Linked DNA regions of Homo sapiens. The protein of the gene in region 2 interacts with the protein of the main gene of each other region in a biochemical or structural test. Each region holds a gene or a part of one and is shown on either strand. Other genes may lie near its edges.

What was found. Proteins that work in one complex are often made in the same cells at the same time.
Region 1: the proteins of DGKK (region 2) and PDZRN4 interact in a test that uses a peptide from one of them, tested with the Homo sapiens proteins (one large-scale study listed by IntAct).
Region 3: the proteins of DGKK (region 2) and PARD6G interact in a test that uses a peptide from one of them, tested with the Homo sapiens proteins (one large-scale study listed by IntAct).
Region 4: the proteins of DGKK (region 2) and CNKSR3 interact in a test that uses a peptide from one of them, tested with the Homo sapiens proteins (one large-scale study listed by IntAct).

The regions. Positions count from the first base shown.
Region 1 is NC_000012.12:41,506,320-41,510,787, reverse strand, and holds part of PDZRN4 (PDZ domain-containing RING finger protein 4), read right to left. Parts: intron 4,333-4,468; coding exon 4,076-4,332; intron 978-4,075; coding exon 875-977; intron 1-874.
Region 2 is NC_000023.11:50,366,492-50,370,886, forward strand, and holds part of DGKK (diacylglycerol kinase kappa), read right to left. Parts: intron 4,059-4,395; coding exon 3,935-4,058; intron 2,529-3,934; coding exon 2,449-2,528; 3' UTR 1-2,448. UniProt on the Homo sapiens protein: Diacylglycerol kinase that converts diacylglycerol/DAG into phosphatidic acid/phosphatidate/PA and regulates the respective levels of these two bioactive lipids.
Region 3 is NC_000018.10:80,201,547-80,206,014, reverse strand, and holds part of PARD6G (partitioning defective 6 homolog gamma), read left to right. Parts: intron 1-3,082; coding exon 3,083-3,305; intron 3,306-4,468. UniProt on the Homo sapiens protein: Adapter protein involved in asymmetrical cell division and cell polarization processes. May play a role in the formation of epithelial tight junctions. The PARD6-PARD3 complex links GTP-bound Rho small GTPases to atypical protein kinase C proteins.
Region 4 is NC_000006.12:154,412,218-154,416,685, reverse strand, and holds part of CNKSR3 (connector enhancer of kinase suppressor of ras 3), read left to right. Parts: intron 1-2,262; coding exon 2,263-2,387; intron 2,388-4,468. UniProt on the Homo sapiens protein: Involved in transepithelial sodium transport. Regulates aldosterone-induced and epithelial sodium channel (ENaC)-mediated sodium transport through regulation of ENaC cell surface expression.

The sequences.
Region 1 (4,468 bases), on a different chromosome or scaffold from region 2:
ATGAGCTTCCTTATTTGATTTCAGATCCTCCTAAGGGAAGAGATTTCAGGATTTCCTGGTTGTAAAGTGGAAGAGAACACTTTGCTGAACTTGTATGACATCACCTGAAGCATTAAAAGGGCAGGTGACCATGGGTTCTCTGCCTGTTTACCAAAGCTTCTTTACTTCCTCAATCTATTTTATTTTTAAATGTCAGAGTAGTCTGAAACCTTTCAAAGATATTCAGGCTGCAGAAGCAGAGGAAATATTAGGATACATTCTTTAACTTTTGTGAGAGCTTTTAAATAATCAATGGATGGACTTTTCGAATTGTTATATATCACAGTACAGATATTCTGACATTAAACCATGTGAAGAATAAATATAGTTTAACAACAAAGGGCATGAGGCCATCTCTATTTCTAGGAAGTCTGTGAAATGGCTCTTTAGAGTACAGACCAGAGGCACAAAGAGAGTATTGCATTTCCAAAGAATACAATATAATAAAATTTAGTTTATCAATGAAAATTAGAATATTATACAACAAATGAAAATAGTAAACACAATCTTTGTTTTAAATATATTTTTCAAACTCCACTTGGAAATCCACATATATTATAGAACAGATTTTAAAAATGTAGCTGTTGCAATATTATTTATTAAAAAGCAACAAAATGAGAGCAAATTATATTTAAGCTTATACTATAAAAATATTTTCCAATATACTTAAAACACGAGAGCCACATAGCTAAAGCAAATAGTATTTGAAAGATCTTACACTGGATATGTAATAGACAAGACATTTCTCACTGTAATAAATTAATTTCTTTGTTATACAAAACCCCTCAACCGTAACTTCATGAAGAAATGTGAAGTGGTATGAAAATGACCTTACCTCATATTCAAAGTCTTCTGTTCTGTCTGCATCAGCAGGCAAGCTGGAAATATACTCATTGTCCTCATAAAATTCATGCTCCATTGGATGTAGAGAATGGCAGCTATGGGGAATGTAGCAATATGATAGGAATAGATTAAATGGGTTGTTTTCCAGATTAAAACTGATTTTAGAATTTCACTTTAGTTTGCTCTGCTTTGGAATAAGATCTGTAGTGATCTAGTCTTTAAACAAACTACAGCTGAGGAAAAGCAATAGCTTTTCTTTCTCCCTCTACGTGAAGTCCATCAATTTGCAATTTCTGAGAGAATGCTAGGAATAAGGGCCTATGGTCAGAGTTGTATTCTGTGGAAAGACTGATGTGAAATCTCTGACAGTCCGTGGTGCTTTATTGATACTTTCTGGCCTGCTTCCATTCCACTGAATGTGACAAGCTCCATACGTGGGTGTGTGGCATTTGAGATTGCAGTCTACTCAAAGAGGGGTATTTTGTCATAAAGTACTACCAATTTCATAATCCACAGCTGCAAACTATTTTTTGAAAACCATTTTCAAAAGCACTTATTTTTTCAGACTCTAAAATGTGCTCACATTGTCCCCTCCTCTCTTTCTTAAGATCCCCCTTTCTCACTCTCCCTCATAATGCACATTTTCCCCTCTTTGATCAAGGACATATACACAAATATTAAAGAACATTCATGGCGATCAATCAGTGGAAACTCCTATAAGCCACAAGGTTTCAAAATACCTTTAGAAAATTCTCAGTGACAGAGAGAGCAGATTACATTAAGGAAATGAGAGGATATGGCTTTTATGTATTTCAACTTTTAGGAAATTTTTAAATAGTTTGTAAACATGTTATTCGATTTAGTATGTTCTGATATAAAGACTACACATCATACCATATGAAGACTAAGCATAGTTTAACAGCAAAGAGCATAAGGCCTTTTCTATTTCTAAAAGACACTGAAAAAGCCTAAATACAATTGACAAGTTGGTTGCAGATGAGACCTCTAACTCCTGCCAGTGTGGATCTTTTTGAAAAATTGGAGATAGCAGTATCAATTAGTTCCCTTCTCCCTTGTTGAAAGGCAAGAGACCCATCCTCATGCCCTCATACTATAGTCAGCGTAAATATTCTACCAGCCTCTCCTCACTACTATCTATGGCTGTCAGCTCCACACAGGTCTAACTAGTGTAGGCCAAAATGGTAAAAGTAATACAGGCAGCACCTTGCCTTGTGTCTACCAGATAAATCTCCTTGCTTATAGCTGGACTGGGTCCGCATAGCCCTTTTGGGCTCTTGGAATATCGAAGCCTGCTGCTTTGGACATCTGATGTGTTTCCCTTGTCTTTCGGATAGTAAGAAGGGAGCCCTGCTGTGAGGAACACTTTATTCATTCGACGTTTATTTAGTGGCTGCCAGATGCAAGGCCAAGTGCTGGAAATATGTTGGTTTACAAAATCCAATTCTGCCCTATTAATTGGGGAAAGCAGCAAAGTGGGAATTTTAATACAGTGCAATAATTAAGGGAAAAATACAGGAGCCTTGGGAGCACATGGTAGGGGTGGACCCACTGCAGCCCTAGGAAGTTTTCTAGAGGAGGTTGTCTCTAAGCTAAGGTCTGCAGGACCTAGGAAGAGCAGCAAGATGCACTGGCTAAGGGGGTAGGCATTGGGGTCAGACCTCTTAGGCCTAGAAGCCTGGCCCTGTCACTTTTTTGCTATGTGATCTTGGCCATGTTACTTAATATCTGTTCCCTCATCTTAGACATAGAATGTTGATAATATAATGTACTCCCTCCTAAGATTATTGTGAGAACTAAATGAGTCAATAAATGCAAAACGTTTGGAATAATACTGAAAGCATGTTAAGTTAGCTAATACAAGCTAGCTATTATTATTCATTCAAGGAAGTATTTGTTGGATGGCTACTATGTTTTAGGCTGTATTAATGAATATTATATATTTGTTTCCTTGCTTTTTGTTCAACTCCCCTTGTAGAATATAAACTCTAGAAGGCAGTGACTTTATTTTTGTTCATAGTTTTATGCCAAGCATCTAGTTGCAAGCCCTGACACATCCAATTTGTGTCTGATACAAAGGGCTATTTAAAATAAAGAGATACCCAAGACAAACAGATCCCCTGCCTTCCTGGAACTCGAAGTCTCAAGAAGTGTTTTCAAAACTTGGCTGCACATTAGGATTGCCTAGGGAGACTTTTGAAAATTTCTGATGCCTAAGCCTTACTCTAAGAATTCTCATTTAATTGGCCTAAGGAGTGATTCAGGTACTGATACAGCTTCTGAAAGTTCCCAGGTGATTCTATTGTACATCTGTGACCCACTGAAACGGGCTTATGGGAGCCAGCCATCAAAGGGCAGGAAAGTGGCATGACTCAGATCTTTGTTTTATGAAGTAGAGAGCGGATTGGAGTAGGTGATGAAAATGCAGGCTAAGGAGACTATTGCTCTTACAAACTCTCAATGTTTGAATATTTGCTCGAAAGCTCACAGAACACAATGAATTGGGCAAGCATACTTTTAAAACTGTTCAAGTAGGATTATTTGAATAAAATCTCTCTGACTTCCTTTAAATTAGGCAAAAATCAGGAGGAAGTATTCCTTGAATAGATCTTTATTTGATAGCACTATACTTACTCTCTGACAGCCAAGATCCTTTGTTTATATCTCAATATATTGGGTAAGTGCTTTCGTCAGAGAATTGCACTTTAATTAAATCAATTTCCTAGCTTCTCTTTAAAGAAGAGAAATGCAAGGAAGAGAGAGAGGTGGCCCACAGAGGAGAATGTGGTGCCAAGATGCCACTTCCACATGAGTCTTAATAAGGTTTTTGGCAGCTTTGGTGAGAAAAGTGATTTCCCTGACCAGTGTTCATGAGTAGCATGAGGCTTTTGACAGCTAGTAATATGAAGATGAACTAATCAGAGCCAGAATTTTTCACAGCAGCTAGCAAGTATGATTACCCAGGTGGAGCAACCATGTGGGTCAGGGAGAGTAGCTAGCAGGGACCACTGAGAACTAATTGCACATATCAAAACAGGGGAGACATTTTCCAAACGGAGCTGGGAAGCCTGTCTCCATAACTGTCAACCTGCTAGTGGAACTGCTTCTTTTCAACATCTGCTTTACGTGACAAATGGAAACAAACAGGGCTTTGGAAGAAATGATAGAAAAATACCTGTCTGAGAGCAGGAATGGACAGATGTCTGGCACTGGAGGGGTAGGTGGACGAAGCTTGGCCAGAGCCATGATGTGTTCGAAGGTGATGTCCGTCTGAGTGCTGGCATTCATAAGCTGCACTTCTGAAGCCATCCCATAGGCTGGTCTACTAAGAGGTGTTCGCCTTAACACCTGCACCACAATGGGCTCCTTGGCATTGCGAAAAGCTTCCACTGCCTCTTCATGAGTGGCCTTTGAAAGATCCTTCCCATTGACCTACAAACATATAAGGACATTGTTCATCTCAGAGGAAAGATCAGAGAGGCTGTCATGATAGATTAATAAAAGACAGAGAGAAAGGTTTCAACCAGCCCTGATATGAATTTTGTAATGGAATATTTAATCAGATATT
Region 2 (4,395 bases):
AGCAACAGCAGCATCACTGTGCACAAAGACCTAATTATTGCAGCAAAGTAAGCACAAGAGATGGAGTCTTATTACAGTTTACTATCATCAGTGATAAAAATAATTATAAGACACAGCCCTGCTTAGTCACTGCCAAGATAAAGCTATCTTCTCCCAGGACTTCCTTCTGTAGTCCTAAATTTGCTCATTTGGACATTTTCCCCTTCGGAAAAAGCTCTTCTGAAGAAAATGCAACTTGGTTCCCACTCTGTGAGTGTGTGTGCAGGTGTCAATGCATGCAGCCATAGAGGAGCCAAGTCAGGCTGCAATAGTGAGCTTGCTGATTTCATCTAATACCTCCTCCTGGGAAGAAAGACTAATAACAGAGAAAGTCAAAGACACAACAACAGCACACTCACTACTCAAATATGTACAACAAGCTAACACATTCTGATGCTTAAATAAGTTTTAAATGTTTTCTGTCATCTTTTTCCATTGACTTTCTTCTCTAGTTGTAGAGCTAGGACTTAGTTTGGCACAGCAATCAGACATTTGGGGACTATCCCCTTGTTAATATTTTTCTCCTCACCCCTGCGGAGGTGGAGCACAGGTGGCTGGTTTAAGTGGGTTAGGCTGGTGGAGTTCCAGAGTTGAGAACCAGTGCTTGGAATCTGAATTGTGCACCTCAATGAACCAGCCATTGGACTGAATCAGGTAATTGAGCACGCTAAGTTTGTCTGAGAAGTAGGGAGAGGCCAGTTTTCTCTTGATAAGTGGGAAGGGACAGTTAACTAAAGGTATGAGTCAAGGGTGGGGTGAAGATGCAAGGCTGACCAGAGAGAACCTCTCTGGGCATTGGGGTTTGATTAGATTTGCCCTGACTGGGAGAAGGCATTTTTGAAAAATGTGAATTAGTATTTGGAGCGATTTAGGAATAGTTTGTTTTCATGAGAAATTTGCAAGAAGAACCACAGGAAAGCACAGGCTTCTAGCCTTCATTTCTCCAGGCCCATGTTTTTTCTGATCACTTCAATGCCCCTCTGTACTCAAGGGAAAAGGGCAAGATGGGAGATTTGAAGGTGACTTGAGGACTGACCCAACAGCCTGTCCAGAAGATCAGGCCAAGATGGAGCTTGTGGGGAAGGGCCTAGGCTGTGACTTAATTGTCAGGCAGTCCCTAGTTCAGGCATCTAAGTCACAGAGCTCAAGGCCTGGTTGCTCCATATAGTCTTTTTATTGGGGAAGGGCACAGTTGCTGATGAAGAGTCTAGGACAGATAGAGCAAAAAAAGGCAGCATGCCAGCTTAAACCCCTTCTTTAGGGCATTGGTGTTTTTGTTCCCCTTTCCATGGCCTGGCTCAGAATTTTAAGGGGGCGTCAGAATCAGCTGGGCCATAGATCCCAGCCACCTCTAAGACGCTGAAAATGCACCAAAAGATTTAGAAGCTCCACCAAGAAATAGGGCAGTTGGTAGAGGTGTATGTGTTATTGTTATGTAGAGTAAGGGGGAGTGGGAAGGGATTCCTGGATTAGCACAATAAATTATAGGGTCACTTAGAGGTCGAGTTGTATTTTCAGCTCTTAAAAATATATATGCGTATGTATATATATATACATCTTTATGTCTCTATACATAATCTATACTGCAGCACAGCGGCAAAACATTTAGTTAAAAAATCCAGCAAGAATGCAGGCAAACACTCCGTGGAGGCATGCAGGCTAGGATCAAGGCAGCAGGAGGGGAGCCTGTATGGTTGCCATGAGGGGTGAGTTCCAACCAATGAGCCCACCAGAGCACCACCTGGACATATGCAGACATACAAGCACACATAGAAAAACGCAAAGGGTTTGCAGAGAGAGAGAGAGGTTACCATATCTACAAAAAGAGATTTCACATGGTCATCTTAACAGGAAAGTGGACAAGCCCCCAGGATCTAGTTCTCATTTTAATGAGCCAACTAGAAGAGATCTCCTGAAGGTGCAAGTTGCAGTTGGCAGGGATTCGGAGAGACACACAACCAAGTCTGGCTGTCCTGCCTGCCCCCTTCTCTTCATCTCCCTGGGAGTCTGTGTGTCTTTCATTCATTCCTTAGCATTGATAGTTTCTCTGCTGGTCAGAGAAAACCATTCCAAAACTCCCTGAAGAGGTGAACTCCCTTGAATCCTTTATAGATCCCAGGCCATTCATAAAGAGCTTATCCCAATAAATACTGTAGTTGCTCAAGATGCACAAAGAGAAGGAGAACTGAACAAGACAACTCGGAACAAGAACCTTTGGCCAATGAGGAAATGTAAACCTCTAAGGAGACCAGATTAAGTCCAGGAAAATGCATTAGTGAAAAGAATTGGAGGGTCTTTCTTGGTGGTGCTCATGTTTGTTCTGAAATGATTTAGTCTAGCCTGTATTGAGGTTTTGAGAGTTTTTTTAGTAGAATTCTCAATGTTGTGAGTTCTTCCAGCTTTCAAGGGCTACAGTTGAGATCTCGATGGTGTTAGAGGATCATCACCCTCTGCTTCATCTTCACGATGTCTGCGGTGCCATAAATTGCCTTCAGAGGAAAAAAAATGGTATAGAAATAATGAGGTTAGCACAATGCCAGATGCCCAAGTATGTGGACCCAAAAGAGAGCAAAAAGTCTGTTAGAAGATAGACTGGTTTGTTCCTATTGTACTAACCATCTCTGAATCATCAGGGAAAACCAGCTGAAACCAAGTGAGCTAAAGACAAATGGGATGAATTTTCAGAACCTGATAATTTATGGAACTGATATTGACTCTGTCAGAGTCTTTAGAAATATTTGCAAACACTATTGTCTCCCAATTGACAGACTCTTAAGGAATCAAACCAGTTCGACCATACCTGAGAAAATACAGCTCGATCCAAGAGATTCTCTCTTGGCATTCGTGCAAACTCTTAGTTCCTTGAAAACAAACTGCTACCCTCTGTCCCTTTCTTTTTTTCTTTTTTTTCTTTCTTTCCTTCTTTCTTTCATTTCGCTCCCTTTCTTTCTCCTTCCGTCCTTTCTTTATTCTTCCTCTTTTTTTCTCCCTCCTTCCTTCCTTCCTTCCCCCTCCCTGCCTCCCTCCTTCCCTCCTTCCTCTTTCTTTCAAGATGAGGTCTCACTCTATTGCCCAAGCTGAAGAGCAGTGGCATGATGACAGCTCTCTGCAGCCTCAGCCTCCCAGGCTCAAGCAATCCTCCCACCTCAGCCTCCCAAGTAGCTAGGACTACAAACGCACACCATCATGCCCTATTAATTTTTTATTTTTTGTAGAGACAGCAGGGTCCCACCACGTTGCCCAGGCTGGTCTTGAACTCCTGGGCTCAAACAGTCTGCCTGCCTCGGCCTTCCAAAGTGTTGGGATTACAGGTGTGAACCTGTTCCTTTTTTTTCCATGTCCACTATTACTGCATCTCTCAAGCTTCCAGGTTGTCTAGGACCAAAATTTAGGAGGGACCACCATTTACATCAGAATTGGCACAACTGAAAACTCTAAGAGAACCTTCTTTTGAATCCTACTGATATGTCAATAGTGCTTAAGGCCAATTCTGAAGAAAGAAGAAATGGAACCAAAATTCAAACAATAAAATATACAGATATGTTGCTTTTCTACCACTTACTATAACAGGAACAAAAGTGTTTAGATAGGCCACAGAACCTGTTCCTGACCCTTAGGAGTGAATCAGGCAGAAAAATCACCGCCTGTTTGCATTTTTGTTTTCTGTATATGTTATGGAGACCACACAGGTTCTCCCCTTACCAGTGTCCATATCACTTTCTCTCACCTTGTCCAAGATATGGCTTGGTATCACTTACTGCTGACTCCCAGATGGCCTCCCGCTTCATCATCACCATTCCCACAAACATTTCTAATGGGGGCTTCAGGTCCCTGGGAGGTAGCCAGGCTGTTGGGGGAAGTCTTCATGACCCCTCTGCCTGTGGGGGAGACTTACCAATAAAACTCTGGACACTCTGGCCTGATTTAGGCTTGCGTTCCTCTTCTACCTTTTTCTTTCCCAATTTGGGGAACTTAATTTTCAGCCTGAGGCTTCTACTGTCAGTGTCCGAAGATTTTTCCTGAGAAACCACAAGAGGAAGGTCAAAATGTTAGTTGCCTAATATTCAAAGATAATTGCTGGAGTCCTGGAAAAGTGGTAAACAAGAATGGCTACAGAGAACAGGGAGATCTGCTCTCTATCCAGGTATGAGAAACACCCCCATCACTGGTCGCATGCCCTAGGAAAGCAATTGATCCTTACCAAGAGGCTACTTGATGCCAGGTGCTTTGCTAGCATTAATAAATGCTCTCATACAACTCTCAAAGCAACCTTGCAAAGTGGTTATTAACATCCCTGTATCAGAGATGAGGAAGCAGAAGCTTGGAGAGGTTAAATATTTCACCTGAGCTCATGTG
Region 3 (4,468 bases), on a different chromosome or scaffold from region 2:
TATGCTGTTTCAGGGAGGCCTGGCGTTCCTGAGGTGAAAGTGAGCTGTATCCCTTTGCGGTGATACTGAAGTGAGAATTATATAAAATTCAAAAACACTCTTACTAGTTGCATTAGACATGATTAAATTATCTTATGTATTCAGTTAAACGAAAGCCATATAGTGATACAAGGAAATTGCTTTGGAAGTTGGTATATGTATTAGTCCATTCTCACATAGCTGTAAAGAAAGACTACAGACTGGGTGGTTTATAAAGAAAAGAGACTTAATTGGCTCACGGTTCCACAGGCTGCACAGGAAGCATGGTGACCATCTGCTCCTGGGACGGCCTCAGGGAGCTTTTACTCATGGCAGAAGGCAAGATGGGAGTAGGCATCCTACATGGCAGGAGCAGGACTAAAAGAGGGGGAAGGTGCTACACACTTTTAAAACAACCAGATCTCGTGATCACTCACTCACTCACCATCACAAGAACAGCACCTGGAGTTGGGCTTAACCATTCATAAGAGCTCTGCCCTCATGATCCAGTCACCTCCCACCAGGCCCCTCCTCCAACACTGGGGATTACAATTCACCATGAGACCTGGGTGGGGACACAGATGCAAACCGTGTGAGTATATATGAGCTATGTGAGATGGGAAAGACAAGGATTGATGTTAGTGAAATAAATGCTTTGTGATCTGAAAGATACCGCATAAAACTGATGTTGTAGGCTTTACATGTGTGTCTTAAAGTTTTGGAGCCCCTGTGTGTGAAAGAATCTGCATCGCCTACATGCTGTACCAGTGTCATCCTTGGGTGAACGTTTCCCCTTGAATAACGGGGAGAGATTTCAAGGGTTTGCTCTGCTCTGCACTTCTGACAATAGCAGGAGATAGAGGAGAGCCCTTTCCTCTGCCCCTTCCAGGGTGCAGCCGTGTTCAGAGCATGTAACTGTCCAAATACCAAGTTCTGGGGTCCCACTTCTTCCCTTACTGAGTATGTAGACCGTAGGTTAGAGGGGCTTTGATTAGTCATTGAAAGTGGCTTTTCCCAAACTATTGTTATTATTATTATTATTATTAAGACTGAGTCTCACTCTTTTGCCCAGGCTGGAGTGCGGTGGCATGATCTTGGCTCACTGCAACCTCCACCTCCCAGGTTCAAGGGATTCTCCTGCCTCAGACTCCTGAGATTGCTGGGATTACTGGTGTGTGCCACCATGCCTGGCTCATTTTTTGGTACTTTTAGTAGAGATGGGGTTTCACCATGTTGGCCAGGCTGGTCTTGAACTCCTGACCTCAAGTAATCTGCCCGCCTTGGCCTCCCAAACTGCTGGGATTACAGGCGTGAGCCACCATGCCTGCCCCAAGCCAGTATTTTGAATTGTCCCATTGTTGTAGGCCCTGGAGATTTTTTTTTTTTTTTTAATTGCTGAGGGCAGTGCACAATGGATGAGAGGTTTGTTTTGCTTTTGGTAACCTGGGGGAAGTGCTTTTTGAAAGGGAGGTAGAAAAGGAGATTTGTTCTTGAGCAATTCAGTTTCACAAAGAATCTGTGGAGGTTAAGGTCTAGTGGCTGATTCCCATAAAACCAGTGGTTCTCTGTGTGTGGTCCCCAGATCAATAGCATCAGCTCTTTCAGGAACTTGTTAAAATGCAGATTCTTAGGCTGTACCTCAGCACAGTCAAATCCAGAACTCTGGGGGGCCTCCAGGTGATCCTGGCACAAACACGTCTGATCTTAGATGACCTTCCCTGACTCATTCATACAATGTCTAGATGATATAATGACTAGTTTTCCATAAACATTACTTTATTTGTATATATTTTGGAACCAATCTAATTAGTTTTCAACTGTATATGTACCACCTGATGAATAAAGATCCCGAATTGCCGAGTGAGGAATGACAGGAGCCGGAACCCTTGGGCATGACCCTAACCTCATGTCCCCCTGGGGTCCTCTCTTGGAGGGTATCCTGGAGCTCTGCGGGCAGCTCATGGGCATCTGAGCCAGGGTTGGGGTCTGCTGGAAAAGAGGTTAGTCCCTAGATGTTTCCCAAACCTGGACCACCTAATGACAGCTCCTGAGGCGGGTGTACATGTCGCCTTTAGGAAAAAGACCAGACCATCATCCTGTCTCCCTTGGACTTGTATGATTTTAACCAGGTTCCTTTATTCTTGCAATTTCATGTCTACTTCTGATCCTTTTGAAATGTAACCATTACTAAAGTACAAATCAAATGAAGACACTTCCTAGCTTAAAATTAAGACCCGTAAGGTCTTAATGGTCTTTTGCCTTTGGAAACAGTCCCGAGGTTTCATCCGGCCTTGCGTCCTCTCCTGCCTCTGAGTTTCCTAAGCCCTGCCCCAAGCTGTGCAGATGTCCCTTCAGCAACCACAGATGAGGCAAGGGACCTTGCTGAGGAAGGATTCTCCTTTCATGCCACCCAAAAAATTAACATTAATTTTGACGTTGCTTTTTCCTACAACATGAGCTACACAGCCCGTCCTATCCTGTCCTCAGGATATTCATCTGTGTTGATGACTGAGCTGTCCCTCGGTCAGTGTGGACGAGAGGGCCGTCCTGGGTCTCTGTGGATGAGCGAGCTGCTGCCTGAGTCACTACTGCTTTTAATTGTTTAGGGTCCCTCTTCCTGTATTATAATTTCTTATTTAGTCACTGTGAGCTCTGTGAGAACTGAGCTGTTTGTCACTATCTCCCCAGGCCCTTGTGGAGAATTAATAAATACTTGTCCTTTTATTTTCTTAATACAACATTTTAAATTCATCAGCCTCTGTAGCAAACAGTATGAGATATCTCAGAGAACTGAAAATAGAGTTACCATTGGATCCAGCAGTCTTACTATTGTGTTTCTACCCAAAGGAAGAGAAATCGTATTAAAAGCATTTGTAGCTTCATTCCAGCACTATTCATAATAGCAAAGATGAAATCAACTTATGTGTCTATCAGTGGATGATTGATTAAAGAAAATGTGGAATGTAAATACTTGTTTGTTAAGTACACTAACCACACCTTATTTCTGGATATTTCTCTGGTATTTATTAATGCCCCTCCCCCCACCCCGTCTCTTGCATTGTAGTTTGGGGCGGAATTCCGAAGGTTCTCTCTGGACCGTCATAAGCCTGGGAAGTTTGAAGATTTCTACAAGCTGGTTGTGCACACCCACCATATCTCCAACAGTGATGTAACTATTGGCTATGCAGATGTGCACGGAGACCTGCTGCCCATCAACAATGATGACAACTTCTGCAAGGCGGTTTCTAGTGCAAATCCCCTGCTCAGGGTCTTCATCCAGAAACGAGGTACTGAAGTGGTTGAGTGGCCGGCTGGTCTTGTTGAGAAATCATTTTTAAAATACAGTTTTCAATTTTTTCTGTCATTACAGGACTATGTGGTTCGTTTTCTAACCTGTAGTAGGAGATTAAAGAAATTAAAAATTGTTTCATCAGCATTAATAGACAAAATACTAAACTGTGTTTTCTACTTTAAATGATATTGACTTCTGACTTTTAAATACTGAAGAAAGAATAATATTGATACTTCCAGTCATTTAACTAGAAGTGAAATGACTCAGTGATAAGGAGGCTTGAGTCAGTGGCCTCAGAATGAAACTTGGGGTTACGGTGCATGCCCTCCATCATCTTGTTAGGAGGAGGGAGCATGTTAGCTTTCGATGATAACTTTGGTTAACTTTTAGCTCTGAGGCCCAGTTTCGCTATAAGTAATAATATCATTTTATGTTAAAATAAATTACTAACATAGGTTAATGGCTGAAAGGGAAGGGGTGCCCTACTGCTGACTTATTGTGGGACCTCATACTGCTCACGTCTCTGGACTGCATTTAGATTTTTTTTCCATCTCCAAACTTCGGAGAACCTTGTTGTTTCAAAATAATATGCTGAAAGAAAGAAGCACCTGCAGGTGAGGCTTGATATTGGGAAAATGGCATTTTTATAACTGACTGCCTCTCCTTTGGGCGGCCCCACGGTGCAGGTGGTGAACACTGACCACCTCAAGGAACCAAGCAGCCAGTGGTGACAGTTGCAAGGTGAGGTTGCAGTGTGCCCTGTCTGCCCTCATGGATCTGCTGCCAGAGTCTCTGGGACAGCTAGGAGAGGTTTCCCGGAGGAAAGGCTGAGCTGAGACTAGAGGAAGCAGCAGCAGGGTGCTGGGTGGGAGGCGGGCTGGGCGAGTTCTCAGACGAGGCCCTCCGCCTCCTTCACCCCAGCGTCCTGCTTTGCAAAACGAGGGTCCTCATAGTAACCCCCATCCAGTTTCTGTGAGGGTGATGCTGAGCAGCGTGCTGCCAGCTCCTCGTCCCTGCTCTGTAAATACTAGCTATGGCTGTTATTCCCATTTGTGGTGATGAAGGGAACGGCAGGAGACTCGTTGACCTCACTTCAGACAGATTCTCTGGCACAAGATCAGAACACTCTGCATCTGCAGTTCTCACTGGGCCTGGGTA
Region 4 (4,468 bases), on a different chromosome or scaffold from region 2:
CACCCACCCTTCTCAGAAGAGAGCTCTAAGTTGTTCAACATCATTACTGTTGTCCTATCATAGAAAAGGCATTCACCACTCTGTTTTGATGCCACACTCCTGGGAAATGAGAGTTACTGATATAGAAGTAATTATCAATATGTGTGTTTTCAGGGAGCATCAATTTTGTGGAAATGTTCTAGTTTACTTTTGCTTCTAAGATTTGGAGAATCTGGATCCTGGCCTCATGTTTTCAGATATGGTCCGAAATTGACATGTTGAGATGTCAATCAATTACAAATTGAGTAGAATTGATAGATTATGCATTAATGGCCACGGTTTAAAATATGGGGGTTCTACTCTGGAAGACTGAAAGCTCAGTCCCTGCCCCTGTGACTTGGTATCTCTCCTGAAAATGAGCTGTCCTCTGTGAATCTCCTGGTGGCCATGTCTAGCTCCGTCACACTGGCTAGTCAGTCCTTTCAATCCTTAGAATCAGGTCACAGTTTCACTTCAGAGATCTCTTCCATTACAACCAGGCTGGGTAGGGTTGAAGGGTAGCTTTTTGTTTTCGTTTTTGTTTTTTTTGGTAGAGACGGGGCTTCATTATTTTCTCTAGGCTGATCTTGAACTCTCGAGCTCAAGTGATCTACCTGCCTCAGACTCCCAAAGTGTTGGGATTATTACAGGTGTGTGCCCACACGCTGGGCCTAAGGGTACCTTTTTATGTCTGCCCAGGGCTTGGCACAGTCTCACTGGCCTTCACCAAATATTTCCCTGCCTTGACTCCAAGATTTCCTTGCTGTTCTTTACCAACCAGAAAAATCATTGTTGTCATTGTTAGATTGTAGAAGGTAAGATTGAAGTTCTCACATGAGATATTAAAAACCATGTCCTTTGAGACCAGTATCATAGTTCAAACTCAGCCATGTGGATTTGAAGTTAAGATTAACTCGTATATATGAATGCATATATGTATAAATAGTACTAAAATAAACGGTATAAGGTTGTGTATTTTCTATGGGAAAGCAGTGTCCTAAGTTGTTTACATGTGTTACCTTACTTAATTCTCACAGCCACCCTATGTTGGTGCTATCCTTGTCCCTATTTATTCTCATTTTATAGATGGGGCACAGAGACATTGTGTGACTTGCTCAACAATAAACAGCTAATAAGGGCTGTGCGTGGTGGTTCACACCTGTAATCCCAGCACTTTGGGAGGCTGAGGTGGGCGGATCACCTGTGGTCAGGAGTTTGAGACCAGCCTGGCCAACATGGCAAAACGCCATCTCTACTAAACATACAAAAATTAGCTGGGTGTGGTGGCACGCACCTGTAATCCCAGCTACTTGGGAGGCTGAGGTAGGAGAATCACTTGAACCCAGGAGGCACAGGTTGCAGTGAGCCAAGATGGCGCCACTGTGCTCCAGCCTGGGAGACAGAGGCAGACTCCATCTTAAAAAAAAAAAAAAAAAAAATGGGCAGCTAGTAAGTCTAGCCAGGATCACATCCAGAGTTCCAAGCAATACTCCTAGTCAATAGTAGCACTGCTACTGATTGCTTTTTCTTTTCTTTTCTTTCTTGTTTTTTTTTTTTTTTTTTTTTTTTTGAGACAGAGTCTCACTCTGTTACCCAGGCTGGAGTGCAGTGGTACACTCTTCGCTCACTGCAACTTCTGCCTCCTGGGCTCAAGCAATCCTCCCATCTCATCATCCCAAGTAGCTGGGACTACAGGCGTGTGCCACCACGCCTGGCTAATTTTTATATTTTTTTCGTAGGGACTGGGTATCGCCATGTTGCCCAGGCTGGTCTCGAAGTCCTGAGCTCAAGCAATCCATTGTCCACCTTGGCCTCCCAAAGTGCTGGGGTAACAGGCAAGAACCGCCGTGCCCAGCCTTGCTAGTAATTTTCATGAACTAACTCATCTAATTCTCACTGCAGCTCTATGCAAGAGATATTATCAGTATCACTCCTTTACAGAAGAGGAAAGGGAGGCCACAGATGTTTAAGTGATTTGCTCAGAGCTAGAGTCATAACCCTGGCACCTGGCTCCTAAGCCTCTGCTTCTTGCCACTATACATCGTCATTCAAATCCCTCAGCTCATTCTAAGGTTTCAAAGAAGAATGTAAGTTAAATATTGCCAATATCTGTAAACACATGAATGACCTCAGTCCCTGTTCAGACACGGGGTTGGTGTTGGTTTGGGGGAGGGGAAATAAACACCAAGAATCATCTCTGAATTGATCTCCACTCTTTGCATTGCTGTGTTACTCCTGTTTCAGACCTCACCTCCACCCGCGACAACCCAGTCCCCTGAAAGCACTATGGATACCTCACTGAAGAAGGAGAAGTCAGCCATCCTGGATCTTTATATTCCTCCTCCGCCTGCTGTTCCCTACTCTCCCCGGTATGTTGCTGTCCATTGTCATGGTATGCTTGTCTCCTGTTGGTGTCATTTGTAAATGGTGGTGTGAAAAGAGGATCTTGAGAGAGGAAGTTGCTGAGCCACAGTGTGACAGGGCTGAATCTTGAACTGCCGTTAAAAGTATGATCAGCCTTATTTTATAGGAGTGTAGGGACATATCTGGGTTCTGTGGGGCTTGAAGCTATACAGTTTGGTGGGGAGGGCCCTTCTGAGAAAAGAATATGGCAGTATTGGCCAGGTGTGGTCGCTCACACCTGTAATCCCAGCACTTTGGGTGGCTGAGGCGGGCAGATCACTTGAGCTCAGGAGTTCAAGACCAGCCTGGGCAACATGGTAAAACCTCATCTCTATAAAAAAATACAAAAATTAGCTGAGTTTGGTGGCAGATGCCTGTAGTCCCAGCTACTCAGGAGGTTGAGGCAGGAAAATCGCTTGAGCCTAGGAGGTGGAGGTTGCAGTGAGCAGAGTTTGTGCCATTGCAATCCAGCCTGGGTGACAGAGCGAGACCCTGTCTCAAAAAAGAAACAAAAGGATATAGCAATACCTTACTTTTGAAAAACGAATGAAAACGTGCTCTCCTGGGGCCTTGGAAGGGTCTATTGGGGGCCCTGCAGGTTAAGTTTCATTAACTCCATGGTAAATTCATCTTGAGGGGGTAGATAATAAGTATTTCTGTGAGATTAATGAGAGTTGCAGCTTGATTTTGCTGAGAAAGATGTGTTCTTCATAGAACTTGAAAAAAAACCTATGTGGCCAGGTATGGTGTCTCACGCCAATATTTCCAGCACTTTGGAAGGCCAGTTCAGAGGATTGCTTGAGCCCAGAAGTTCAAGACCAGCCTGGGGAATATAGTGAGGCCCCATCTCTACAAAAAATTTAAAAAATTAGCTGGGTGTGGTTGTGTGCACCCGTGGTCCTAGCTACTCAGGAGGCTGAGGTGGTAGGATCACTGGAGCCCAGGAGGTCGAGGCTGCAGTACAATACACCATGATCATACCACTGCACTCCAGCCTGGACAACAGAGTGAGACCTAGTCTCAAAAACAAAAAAACAAAAAACAGAAAAACTCAGACCTTGTGAGTGTAGGTATGAACATTTCATATTTGTGTGTGTGTGTGTGTGTGTGTGTGTGTGTGTGTGTACCATAAATTCTTAAAAAGATAGTTGCTTTCTTCATGGCTAACTTGAATACTGTATGGTATAATGAGGGTGGTATATAGAGTGTACAGGATGATTTAGGTGTGATCTAGGCTTATTTTTATCAACTCACATATTTATATATGTTGATAAAACTAGACAATCTGGCTCATTTATTCAGCATATCTTTCCTGAGTATTGGGTCTGGGTTACCCTCTGACACAAAACAGACTCGGTCTTTGACCCTACAGAACTGCCAGGGTCTTATTCAACAATTCAAGCATATATTGAGAAATATATGATTAGGTTATAATATTTCATAAAACAAAGTTCAGGCTGGATTTTATTACAGTGACATTTTACTTTCTATCAGAATTTTTTGTTTGTTGGTTTTCATTTGAAGCTGAGGTATTTGCTTCATTGTATTTCTTCTGCATTGGGTGCAGAGATTCAACATTGTTTTCCATTTCCTTGAGTCTTGGCTTACTCAGAACTTATTATAGCGTGTAGAGAATGTACCTCAGGTGATCGGGGCATTCTGGTTTGCAGGATCTTAAGTGTGTTTAAAGTTACAGGTAGTCTTTCCCTCTGCATATAGAGAGCATGACATTCCACTACTAATGTGTGGATTGTTCTATCAGAAACTGGAGGAAGGCACCCTCCCTTGATCCAGAATATTCTTGTCTGGGTTCCTGGAGTAGTGGCAAGAAAAGGGGTGCTGTGTACATAGTGAGAGATAAAGGAACCTGGGGCTAGGAGGAGAGCTGGATTAAACTGCTCGGGAAGACGCTTTTGAGAGTGCACACACACCACTCATGAAGGATTTTCTGAGGAATGAAAAATGGGAATGGATTACTGAGAAACAAGTCATGAGTCATGAAAGCTTTGTGAATGGGGAGTTATATGCCCGGTTTAAAGGTATGGAA